2 separate regions of the Homo sapiens genome follow, and region 1 is linked to region 2. The links come from fine-mapping of genetic effects on gene expression. A gene starts in region 2. The other region holds a variant in brackets. All regions are shown on one strand. Distances are between the middles of the regions. Region 1 overlaps CNTN4 (contactin 4). Region 2 holds the start of CNTN4-AS1 (CNTN4 antisense RNA 1).

Region 1 (5,385 bases), 18 kb before region 2:
AATAAGATGGGTGGAGAAGGATGTAGACAAGAATGTTACAAGGGAAACAAAAACGATTTTTGCATTTGAGTGAAACTACTGTGATTTCTGAAGACCACCTTCCTTCTTTCCCAGACGGTCCCTGAGGAATTACAGAATGGTCGAGGCTTTGGTTATGTGGTGGCCTTCCGGCCCTACGGTAAAATGATCTGGATGCTGACAGTGCTGGCCTCAGCTGATGCCTCTAGATACGTGTTCAGGAATGAGAGCGTGCACCCCTTCTCTCCCTTTGAGGTTAAAGTAGGTGTCTTCAACAACAAAGGAGAAGGCCCTTTCAGTCCCACCACGGTGGTGTATTCTGCAGAAGAAGGTATCGTTTATGCTGCCTAGATCATTGACTGTTAATATTTCTTCAATTCTAAAATGTGGATTGTAGCACGTACAATCAATTTCGCATGGTACATGTATCTTGAAGGCATACCTGATTTGAGAAGAGGATAATGTAAACAATTTGGTTCGCTGTCCACCATGAATCTCTTGAAAAGATAGCGACTGCTCTGTATATGAAAACACTTGGCTGTCCATTATTGATTCCATTGCTAAGGACCAGAATTGCAAATACCATATAAGATCTTCATATCTATCTATATGTTATCATTACTTTCAAAAGAATTTTATTTTTGCCTTTAAGTGAATATCAAAATATAATTTGCATTTTCTTACCACTTGTATTTTCATAAAGCATATGGTACTTGTGGCTCACACCTGTAATCCCAACACTTTTGGGAGGCCAAGGCGGGTGGATCACCTGAGGTTGGGAGTTCGGGACCAGCCTGACCAATATGGAGAAAACCCATCTCTACTAAAAATATAAAATTAGCCAGTTGTAGTGGCACATCCCTGTAATCCCAGCTACTCAGGAGGCTGAGACAGGAGAATCACTTGAACCCAGGAGGCGGAGGTTGCGGTGAGCCGAGATCGCACCACTGCACTCCAGCCTGGGCAACAAGAGCAAAACTCCATCTCAAAAAAAAAAAAAAATCTCACTTATTAAAGAAAAGAGTAAGTCATGAAGCAGTGTGATTGCGCTCACTGTCATCCACACCATCATTATGTTTAACATTTCTCACACATTATTATCACCTCCATGCTATCCCTGCTCTCGGGATGCCTCTCACACAGTCTTCGTTACCTTTGGAGTTCGTCTATGTTGTTTTAAAGATGATGCTCAGAATGGGACCATGTTAAAACATCTGAAAGGTGAATCATTGATTTAGAGTCAGTGAAGATGCAATAACTTATTCCCAATCAGAGAGATCATCCCCTTAGACTCAGTAGCCCTCCATGATCTAGCTGCTGCCTCTCTGTCTGCCTCAGCTGCTGATGCCTTTCCCTGCATATTTCATGTTCCAACCATTGCCAAAGGATTTACAATTATTCAAACAAGCTTCAGCCCTTTTCATAGCCTTCAACTTCTCTTAGATAATAGTTCATGTCTCTGGATTATGAAAATGAGAGGAAAAGGGGAAAAGGACAGTCAGCTGACTTGACTAAGATTCAAGAGAGCTGGATGACACTTCAGGTTCACACTGCAATCTGTATGATCTTGGATAACTCAGGTATACTCTGTGGGCCTCAGCATCTTTGGCTGCAAAGGAGAGGCTAGACTGACTGTTTCCCAAATTTCAGTTATTTTTGCCAGATTTCTGCCATAGCTGTGTACCATTTGTATATGTTCACATTTTTCTTTCAATAGTCTTCCTTAAAAAAAATTTAGTGGGCAAGCACAGTGGCTCATGCCTGTAATCCCAGCACTTTGGGAGGGGGATGTGGGAGGATAGCATGAGCCTAGGAGTTTGAGACCAACCTGGGCAACATAGCAAGATCCAAGTCTTTACAAAAAAACATTAGCCAGGCGTGTTGGCACATGTGTGTGTGGTCCCAGCTACTTGGGAGGCTGAGGCGGGAGGATGGCTTGAGCTCAGGAGGTCAGGCTGCAGTGAGCCATGATTGTGCCACTACATTCCAGCCTAGGTGACAGAGTGAGACCCTATTTCAAAAAAGAAAAAGAGAAGCAGTTTAGCCATGTCGTAAGCAATAACATTTGTGAGATGCTAATTAAGAAGGATCTGTGTTAAGGGAATTGCTGGCTATGAAAACTTGGTGCTTAAACTTAAGTGGTTCTTCTCTTCTACCCACACCTAAATTCAGAACCCAAACACTGGACAAATATTCACTACCACCAACTCCAGCTATTAATCACTGCCCCTCTGCAAAATGAGGGTTTGGCTTACAATCATTAAGGACGATTCTATAACCATGAATTATTTTACCTTATAATGCTAGTATCTACAATCCTGTCCTAATATAGCTGATAGAGTAATAACTATCTCCATATTCATCTACAGAACCCACCAAACCACCAGCCAGTATCTTTGCCAGAAGTCTTTCTGCCACAGATATTGAAGTTTTCTGGGCCTCCCCACTGGAGAAGAATAGAGGACGAATACAAGGTTATGAGGTAGGCAAGACATATGTGCCTTGGGTCTGAAAGAGAGTCTATGCCCCTTGATAAGTCCTCCAAGTCACATTCTTATAGGAAGAGACCCACATTCCCACTAAGAGGCATTGGTTTTAGGCCTGGCTTCCAGCTGAACATTAATGGAAGCATTGAATACTCAGCTGTGAGACTACCCTTTTTCTATGTTATATTCTAGAGGTATTTTTCGAATTATATGCAAATCTAAGCATTTACGGGATGGTTGGCAAAATGAGCTTTGACTTCTGATATGCCCAGGATCACTTTGACTCAAAACAAACATGGGAAAAAAGAAAATAATGAACGACGGTTGTGTCAATGTACCGTCTCACTAGGAAGCTAAGGACAAAAAAGGGACCCTTCTTACTTTGGATAATTTCTCAGGATATACAGAGTCCTTTGTCCTGATAGCTCTGCTCATGATGTAGTATAGAAAACTAACTCCATCATAAGAATCTGCGTACAAAATTACCTGATGACATTGCAAATATCCCCATTGGGTATGGTTTCCAAGGTCTTTCTGTTTAT[C/T]TTCTTAGGTTAAATATTGGAGACATGAAGACAAAGAAGAAAATGCTAGAAAAATACGAACAGTTGGAAATCAGACATCAACAAAAATCACGAACTTAAAAGGCAGTGTGCTGTATCACTTAGCTGTCAAGGCATATAATTCTGCTGGGACAGGCCCCTCTAGTGCAACAGTCAATGTGACAACCCGAAAGCCACGTAAGAACAGACTTGCTCAGAAATATTTTGGGGATTCATCACACATATCCCAAGTTTATTCCTTATCCCCACCTCCCAATGATCATTTGCATACTAATTAGTAGCATGTGGATTCAAATTTCCCTCAGCATTTTAACTGAACCTTTCCGTATACCACGCAAAATTCATTGCTGTGGAGGACAGAAAGATAAATGTTTTTCTCCTCACTGGGAAGGGCTACTTCTTTTAGCTATAAATGTTAGGCGACCAACTGAATCTTTTTCCATTTGCAATGCTGTATCTCATCAGATTTTAGTGACCTTGAAGACACATATTAGTGCAATAGCCCATTAAATTGCCTCCACTCTCGAATTCTAGTAAGGAGATATTCCTCAGAATCCATTGAGACTTAATAATCTGTGACTTCGTATATCTTAATTTTTTTATAGCACCAAGTCAACCCCCCGGAAACATCATATGGAATTCATCAGACTCCAAAATTATCCTGAATTGGGATCAAGTGAAGGCCCTGGATAATGAGTCGGAAGTAAAAGGATACAAAGTAGGTAATTTCTTTTTTGCAAAGGCACCTAATCGTGCTGTGAGTGGGGGCAGTCTCCTCCATGAATTATACAGTTGTCTGCATTGTCAGTTTCCCTGGTGATGCTCTCCTACCCTCTAGGAATCGCTGCCTCCAACACGGTTTGATCTGAGTTGTATAAATAGTCTATGGCAATTGGTCAGGATTTAGACAATCACCTTAACTTTAGTCTCAGGCAGCATCAATCAGAAATGGATAAAGACCCTGTGTTTGGGTCTCCAAAAATACCCTGAAGAACCACTTTTTAAACATTCCTACTGTCAGCTTCGTTTTGCTCCTGTCTCGGTTTATATATATTTTTTAGTCAACTTAGTAGCCTCCTGATATTACCAATGATTAATCATTTTTGTTCGTATGTTTCTATAGTCAAGAGTTATATAAAGAAAAAGAGAAAAGAGAGAAAAAGCAGGAAAAGTGGAGAAAATGTTTGCCTGACCCCATAAATGTTGGCTTGTCTTTAATGAGAAAATGAAAAGAACATGTCTGTAGCCTTCTTGCAGCAATCAAAAAGGGTTATAAATATCTTGCAACGTTTCCAGCTACCTATTTGCTACCTAACAAACCAACCTGAAGCTAGGGGCTAAAACAGCAACAGTGTATCATTTTTTATGACTTTGCAATGTGGATAGGGCCAGAATGGACAGATTTTAGGGCTGGAATAACTAAGATGCTTCTTCACACACTTTTGGCTTCTTGGATGGGATAGGTGGGAAAGCTGAGGCTGGCCAGTGATCATGCTCTCTATGAGGCCTTTCCCCACGGATAACCTGGGCTTCCTCACAGTATGGTGACCTCAGAGTAGTCGGATTTCTTACATAGTTGTCAGCTTCAAGAGGAAGAAAGCAGAAGCTGCCAGCCCTTTTAAAAGCTAAGGATGGACGTGGGCAGTTCCAAGATGGCCAAATAGGAACAGCTCCAGTCTATAGCTCCCAGCGTGAGCAACGCAGTAGACTGGTGATTTCTACATTTCCAACTGAGGTACTGGGTTCATCTCAATGGGGCTTGTCGGACAGTGGGCGCAGGACAGTGGGGGAAGTGCACCGAGCATAAGCTGAAGCAGGGCGAGGCATCGCCTCACCTGGGAAGGGCAAAGGGTCAAGGAATTCCCTTTCCTAGCCAAGCAAAGCTGTGACAGACAGCACCTGGAAGATCAGGGCACTCCCACCCTAATACTAATACTGCGCTTTTCCAATGGTCTTAGCAAACGGCACACCAGGAGATTATATCCCATGCATGGCTCAGAGGGTCCCATGCCCGGCTCAGAGGGTCCCATGCCCACAGAGCCTTGCTCGTTGCTAGCACAGCAGTCTGAGATCGAACTGCAAGGCAGCAGTGAGGCTGGGGGAGGGGGCGCCTGCCATTGCTGAGGCTTGAGTAGGTAAATAGCGGCCTGGAAGCTCAAACTGGGTGGAGCCCACTGCAGCTCAAGGAGGCCTGCCTGCCTCCTTGCCCTCTGGGGGCAGGGCATAGCCAAACAAAAGGCAGCAGAAACCTCTGCAGACTTAAATGTCCCTGTCTGACAGCTTTGAAGAGAATAGTGTTTCCCCCAGCACGGAGTTTGAGA
Region 2 (5,385 bases):
TATATTTACTGTAAGTATATCTGTTGTTTCCCTCACCCCCCATTGCTAAAAGGGTAAGTTCTAAGCTTGAGCATTTAAGGCTCTTTTTTTTTTGAGACGGAGTCTCACTCTTGTCACCCAGGCTGGAGTGCAATGTTGCGATCTCGGCTCACTGCAACCTCCGCCTCCCAGGTTCAAGCAATTCTCCTGCCTCAGCCTCCCGAGGCGCCCACCACTACACCGGACTAATTTTTGGATTTTTAGTAGAGACGAGATTTCACCATGTTAGTCAGGCTGGTCTCAAACACCTGACCTCAGGTGATCTGCCCGCCTCGGCCTCCCACAGTGCTGGGATTACAGGCTTGAGCCACCGCACCCGGCCCTTAAGGCCCTTTTTAATCCAAAACGATTTAACTGTGTATCCAGCCACAGTAAGCCCTCCCTGACCCCTGAACACTGCTTGCTTTTGGTCTCACCTCTGTGCCTTTGGTCTTATGGCTGCCCCTTCCTGAAATGCCTTCTCCACCCTTCTCTCCCATTCAGATCCCTGCTGTCCTAGGGTAGCTCCAGCCCCAGTTTGTCTGCAAAGACTTCCCATGCTTCAGTCCTTTATGACATTCTCGCTTGGAAGTAGTTGCATCCCCTATCAATGCTGCTCATTTAGTAATTAATCAGATACTACTTTTGGAAATCTCTTGTACTGTTATCTTGCATTTTAATTTAACTCCTGTATTGTTACTTACTTTTTCTTGTATGTATGGCTTGTCTTCCCAACTAGATTGTAAGCTCCTTGAGGGCAGGGACTTTGGTCTTATCTTCCATGTACTCTCCATAGTGCCTAGCACAGTGCCTTGCAATAAATACTCACTGATTAATTGAATGAAGGGGTCTTTGAAGTAGCATTTTGCATCAGTTGCCTGCCTGTGTGCCACAGCAAACCAACCAGGGAAGACTGTGTCATTACTTTCGTTATGTGCTGAAAAGCGTTAAAAGGCCTGGCTTCTAACTTTGTACCTGGAAGAAGTCTTTGACCAATTGGCTTCATCATCGGGTAAATGAGGTCCTGGATTAGTTGAGTCTAACTGAATTGAAGATGTTTTAGAAAGTGCCCCATGAGCACCTCCACCCAAACTTGTCTCATTTGTTGGCTTTCATGGTTGCCTCAGGTAGGGTCCACTGGCTGTAAGCAAAGAAACGACCCTGGGTAACTTGAGCAAACAAAAAGTAAGGAATTAGAATGACACAGGTTACATCATATGAGCCAAGGAAACACTGAAGGACCAACTCTTGAGGAGAATAAGAACCAGGCCACTCTGTGGGTCCAGACAATGGGAACTTTGGAAAGTCTTTTTGGGGTGCTATTGTGGGGATGAATCAGCTTTGTTTCCAATTTTGACGCCATTATGCTCAATATTCAGATTCCTGGGAAAGTGATCAGTTCCATTTGAGTTCCACAGCCAGAGTACCTTGTACTCACAGGGGAGGGATAGTTAAAGGAAAACTAAGATGCTGTTTTCCAAAGGTAAGAGAAGAAATGCTGGGTTGGTATAAGTAACAGATTTTCTAGGCTTAGCCAGCCAAGGGGACTTTCTTAGGCCCTTAGCCCAAGTAATACACTCGAGTGGAATGACTATATTGCTGCTTGAGATTTTTTTCTGAAGGAGGACCACTAGGAAAATTTGCTTTGCTTGTTTAACCTTTCAAAGTGCTTACTCTTGCCCTCCTTTTTGTGTGTGTAGTCCACTTGTGATTTAACTGTATGAAAGGAAATTCTATTGTGCCAGATATTTGGATTCTCTCAGTGTACCTACTTTCTATGGAGCCCACACATGCTACATACAAAGCAGCACCTTTCCATGGGCACAGAAGACATGGATGATAAGCTTCATTTCTCAGGTAAGCTCTGAATTCTTCCAGCCTGTGAGGTAGAAGGTGCATAGACTTTGATATTAAGAAAGAATGATTGTGTTATTCCCACCATCAAAATTGTGGTTGTTTATATCCAGGAGGCAATGTTAAATCCTGATTAACCTTTACCCAGTCTCTTCCACCACCTTGCCTCACTACAAATATGCGCAAAGAATGTTGAGTTATAAAAAGTATACAAATAGCACATAATTAGCAACAAAAATGTCATGCAGTTTTTAATCTAATGTAATCAACCAACAGGTGATTTTTGTTCACTACATTGGATTATCGATGCTACTGTTCTCCTCCGTTAACACTTATAATCAAGAAGTGACTGTTATTTTCCTGTTGTTACAATTTACAAAATGTTCTGGCTAAAAACGTTATGTGGCCAACCATAGTGCTTTGAAAGGCAAGCCTTTAAAATCAAGGACTTATATTCAATCTGTGGACATACCCCAGATTTTTCCATTACAAAATGCCAGACACTGAGGCCTTACAAAGGCAGCCTAATACAAAGACTAAGGACGTGGATCCTGGAGTTTGACTGCCTGGGGTGCATTGTAATGATTGGCTACTTATTAGGGAGGATAAAGTTTGTAAAGCTCTCCAAACAGTGATGATTTTACCGTCTGTTATTGTTCTTTTTCTCCAGGGACTTTACTAGACCCACAGATGTAGGATGTGGATGCTTCTTATCACCAAAATGAGTGGAACTCAGCTGACACATCCATTATCACCTTTTATTTAAACATGATCACTTCTTAATATAAATTTTAATGTTCGATAATTTTAATCATACAATCAACTAATTCAAACTTAGGCAGTAGGGTTCCCATTCAGATGCCAGGTTTTGCACAAAGCCTCCCTCAGCTTCCCCATCTGAAATTGACCTTGCATTTCTCTGACCTCCAGGGGATGGGGTCTGTACCCACTCATGTCAGTCATCCCTTCGTACCTTATATTTAAATCATTTTTGTTGGTGTCTTCCGCCTTATAGTAGACACACGGCACCTCAGCGTTGGCATCTGGGTGTGGTTCCTCATTGTGCTCCCAGGCACAAGGCCTGTGTCACCTCCATCTCAGACCTAGAGGGAGGAGAATATCTGGCCCCGTTTCCTGTGATTTCCTCAGGCCCCCTGCCAGAGTGTGATTAGTAAATGCAAGTCAGGCTGCCCATTCTGCAAAGAGGCCCCGTTTCCCCTTGTGCTAAATGGGCCATGCGGATTAAATGTTCCAGCTCTGCAACTCACCTGCAAACTACAATACTCAACAGAGATCACAGTTTAAACAAAATTGGCCTCTATCCTTTATCACAAGCAGTTATGGGCCATGGTAGATTAGCAGAGCTCTAGTGATATAGATCACATAGAGAGAAAGCTTTTTTTAAAAAAGGTCAACCATATGATCGATCTGAAAGTCTGGAAATTGGAAGGCTGAGCTACTTAAATATAGATGCAATTACATGTGATATCCCCATTCTCTGTAAACTGGGTTTTTGCCACATATCCTTATTGTTAGGAATAACACGAACTATACCAGGAAATATATATGTCCTAGGACTTTAACAAATAGTAATATCTTTAATTTGTTTTTCTAGTTTTCAAAGTGCTTTTCACACTAATAAGGGGAGGACATAGGTTTTTATTCCTTTTTTATTTATGAAATGGAAGCAAAGAGGTTATATAAGAAGCCCAAAGTAACATAGACAATTAGAAAGTCAGGGCTGGGCATGGTGGCTCACACCTGTAATCCCAGCACTTTGGGAGACTGAGGTGGGGGGATCACAAGGTCAAGAGTTCGAGACCAGCCTGGCCAACATGGTGAAACCCCATTCCTACTAAAAATACAAAAATTAGCTGGGCATGGTGGCACGTGCTTGTAGTCCCAGTTACCCAGGAGGCTGAGGCAGGAGGATTGCTTGAACCTGGGAGGCAGAGGTTGTAGTGAGCTGAGATTGCCCTACTGCACTCTAGCCTGGGCAAGAGAGTGAGACTCTGTCTCAAACAAAAGAAAAAAAAAAAAAGAAGGACTAGAATTTAGAACATAGACTCATTAGTGCATTTCATACACCTAGAAATAAGTACTTAGAGAAAGGACAGGATGGAGTAAGGAACTAGACTCTGAAGTTCAACTAGAGAACATTCTAGGACAAGTAGGTAGGCCAGAGGAAATGGTGAGGTAGAAGGGTGAGATGTCTGAGGTTCAGATGCTGGAGGTGGAGAAGTTCTGAGTGCCGGCCAGGCCCAGGGCACAGCCATCTGGAGGAATGGGATAGGATAGGTGCCTGGAGAGGGTTTTAGTTATTCAGCAAGGGACTACTGGCAGCCCTCTCTGTACCAGGCACTATTCTGGGCATAGAAGAATGATGTGGCATTCAGATGTGTGTGAGGAAGCCAAGGCACCAGTAACAGTATTTTGTCACAATACAGAGAAATGCAATGATAATAATAATAGTAAACAGTGATTATGCTTATAATATGTGCCAGACTCAGTGCAAATCAACCTACCGATTTAGTTACCATTTATTATTCCTATTTTATACACAGAGGATTGAGGTTGACAGGTTCACATTTGTCCCTGATCACACAGTTGATCAGAGAGACCAGGAATTGAAATGCTGGTGGCTTGGGTTTAGGGCCCTACTCCAAAACATTAGATGTCTCTATCTGTAAATAGATGATACATAAACAATAAGGTAGGTAGATAGATAAATAGACAGATAGATACGGTTCCCATATAGCAACAAGAAGGAAAGGCAGTCATGAGCTTCAGTCTGCTCTAAAGTGGCTCAGCTTCTCTGCTTCTCTTTCCTTGACTGCAAATGTTGTTTTTTGCGTGTTCGTTGTCCTTGACTTCAGGTGTCTTAGAGCTGTTTCTTTAAACTCCGGCTACCCTTCAAGATCAGGATTACCCAATAAAATAGGAGAGGAGCTATTAAACTTAGATTTCAGATAAAAAAAAAATTATGCTTCCTTAGTATAAGTATGCCCCATGTGATATTTATTTGAAATTCAACTTTAACTGAGCCTCTTATTTTTATTTGCTAAATCTGGCAACCTGACACCAGGAGGTCTTCATTACTCTCATTGAAGTAATTAATTTGTAATTCAAAATTTCAGGGTCTTGCGAATGTGTTGTCAGATCTCTGAAGGTCAATGGCTCTGAGGGCGAGACATGAAGTTTGCTGTTTTGAGTTCTGTTTCGTTTGCTGAACTCTCCTTCCCACTTTTCCTTGGATGGTGTGAGGATGGGATGTGTGTGTGTCCAGAGAGACAGGGCTGGTGGGTGAAGTTCCTCTTAGAGCTGGCAGAAAAGAGGTTTTGTTTTTTTTTTGTTTGTTTTTTGAGACGGAATTTTGCTCTTGTTGCCCAGGATAGAGTGCAATGGCGCAATCTCGGCTCACTGCAACCTCCGCCTCCCGGGTTCAAGTGATTCTCCTGCCTCAGCGTCCTGAGTAGCTGGGATTACAAGCATGCGCCGCCACGCCTGGCTAAT

What was found.
Region 1: its variant is fine-mapped to the expression of CNTN4-AS1 in whole blood (TOPMed, PIP above 0.99).

The regions. Positions count from the first base shown.
Region 1 is chr3:3,039,923-3,045,307 of GRCh38, forward strand. It overlaps CNTN4 (contactin 4), which reads left to right. Exons shown (of 25, transcript NM_175607.3): 20 at 115-349; 21 at 2,388-2,500; 22 at 3,055-3,241; 23 at 3,670-3,782. It overlaps CNTN4-AS1 (CNTN4 antisense RNA 1), which reads right to left. Exons shown (of 4, transcript NR_046554.1): 2 at 2,991-3,091; 3 at 1,123-1,232; 4 at 1-460. Among named protein-coding and RNA genes, the nearest start is that of CNTN4-AS1, 19 kb to the right of the region's middle. The variant C/T (reference allele first, on the strand shown) is at 3,047.
Region 2 is chr3:3,058,222-3,063,606 of GRCh38, forward strand. CNTN4-AS1 (CNTN4 antisense RNA 1) reads right to left here and starts at 2,924. Exons shown (of 4, transcript NR_046554.1): 1 at 2,846-2,924.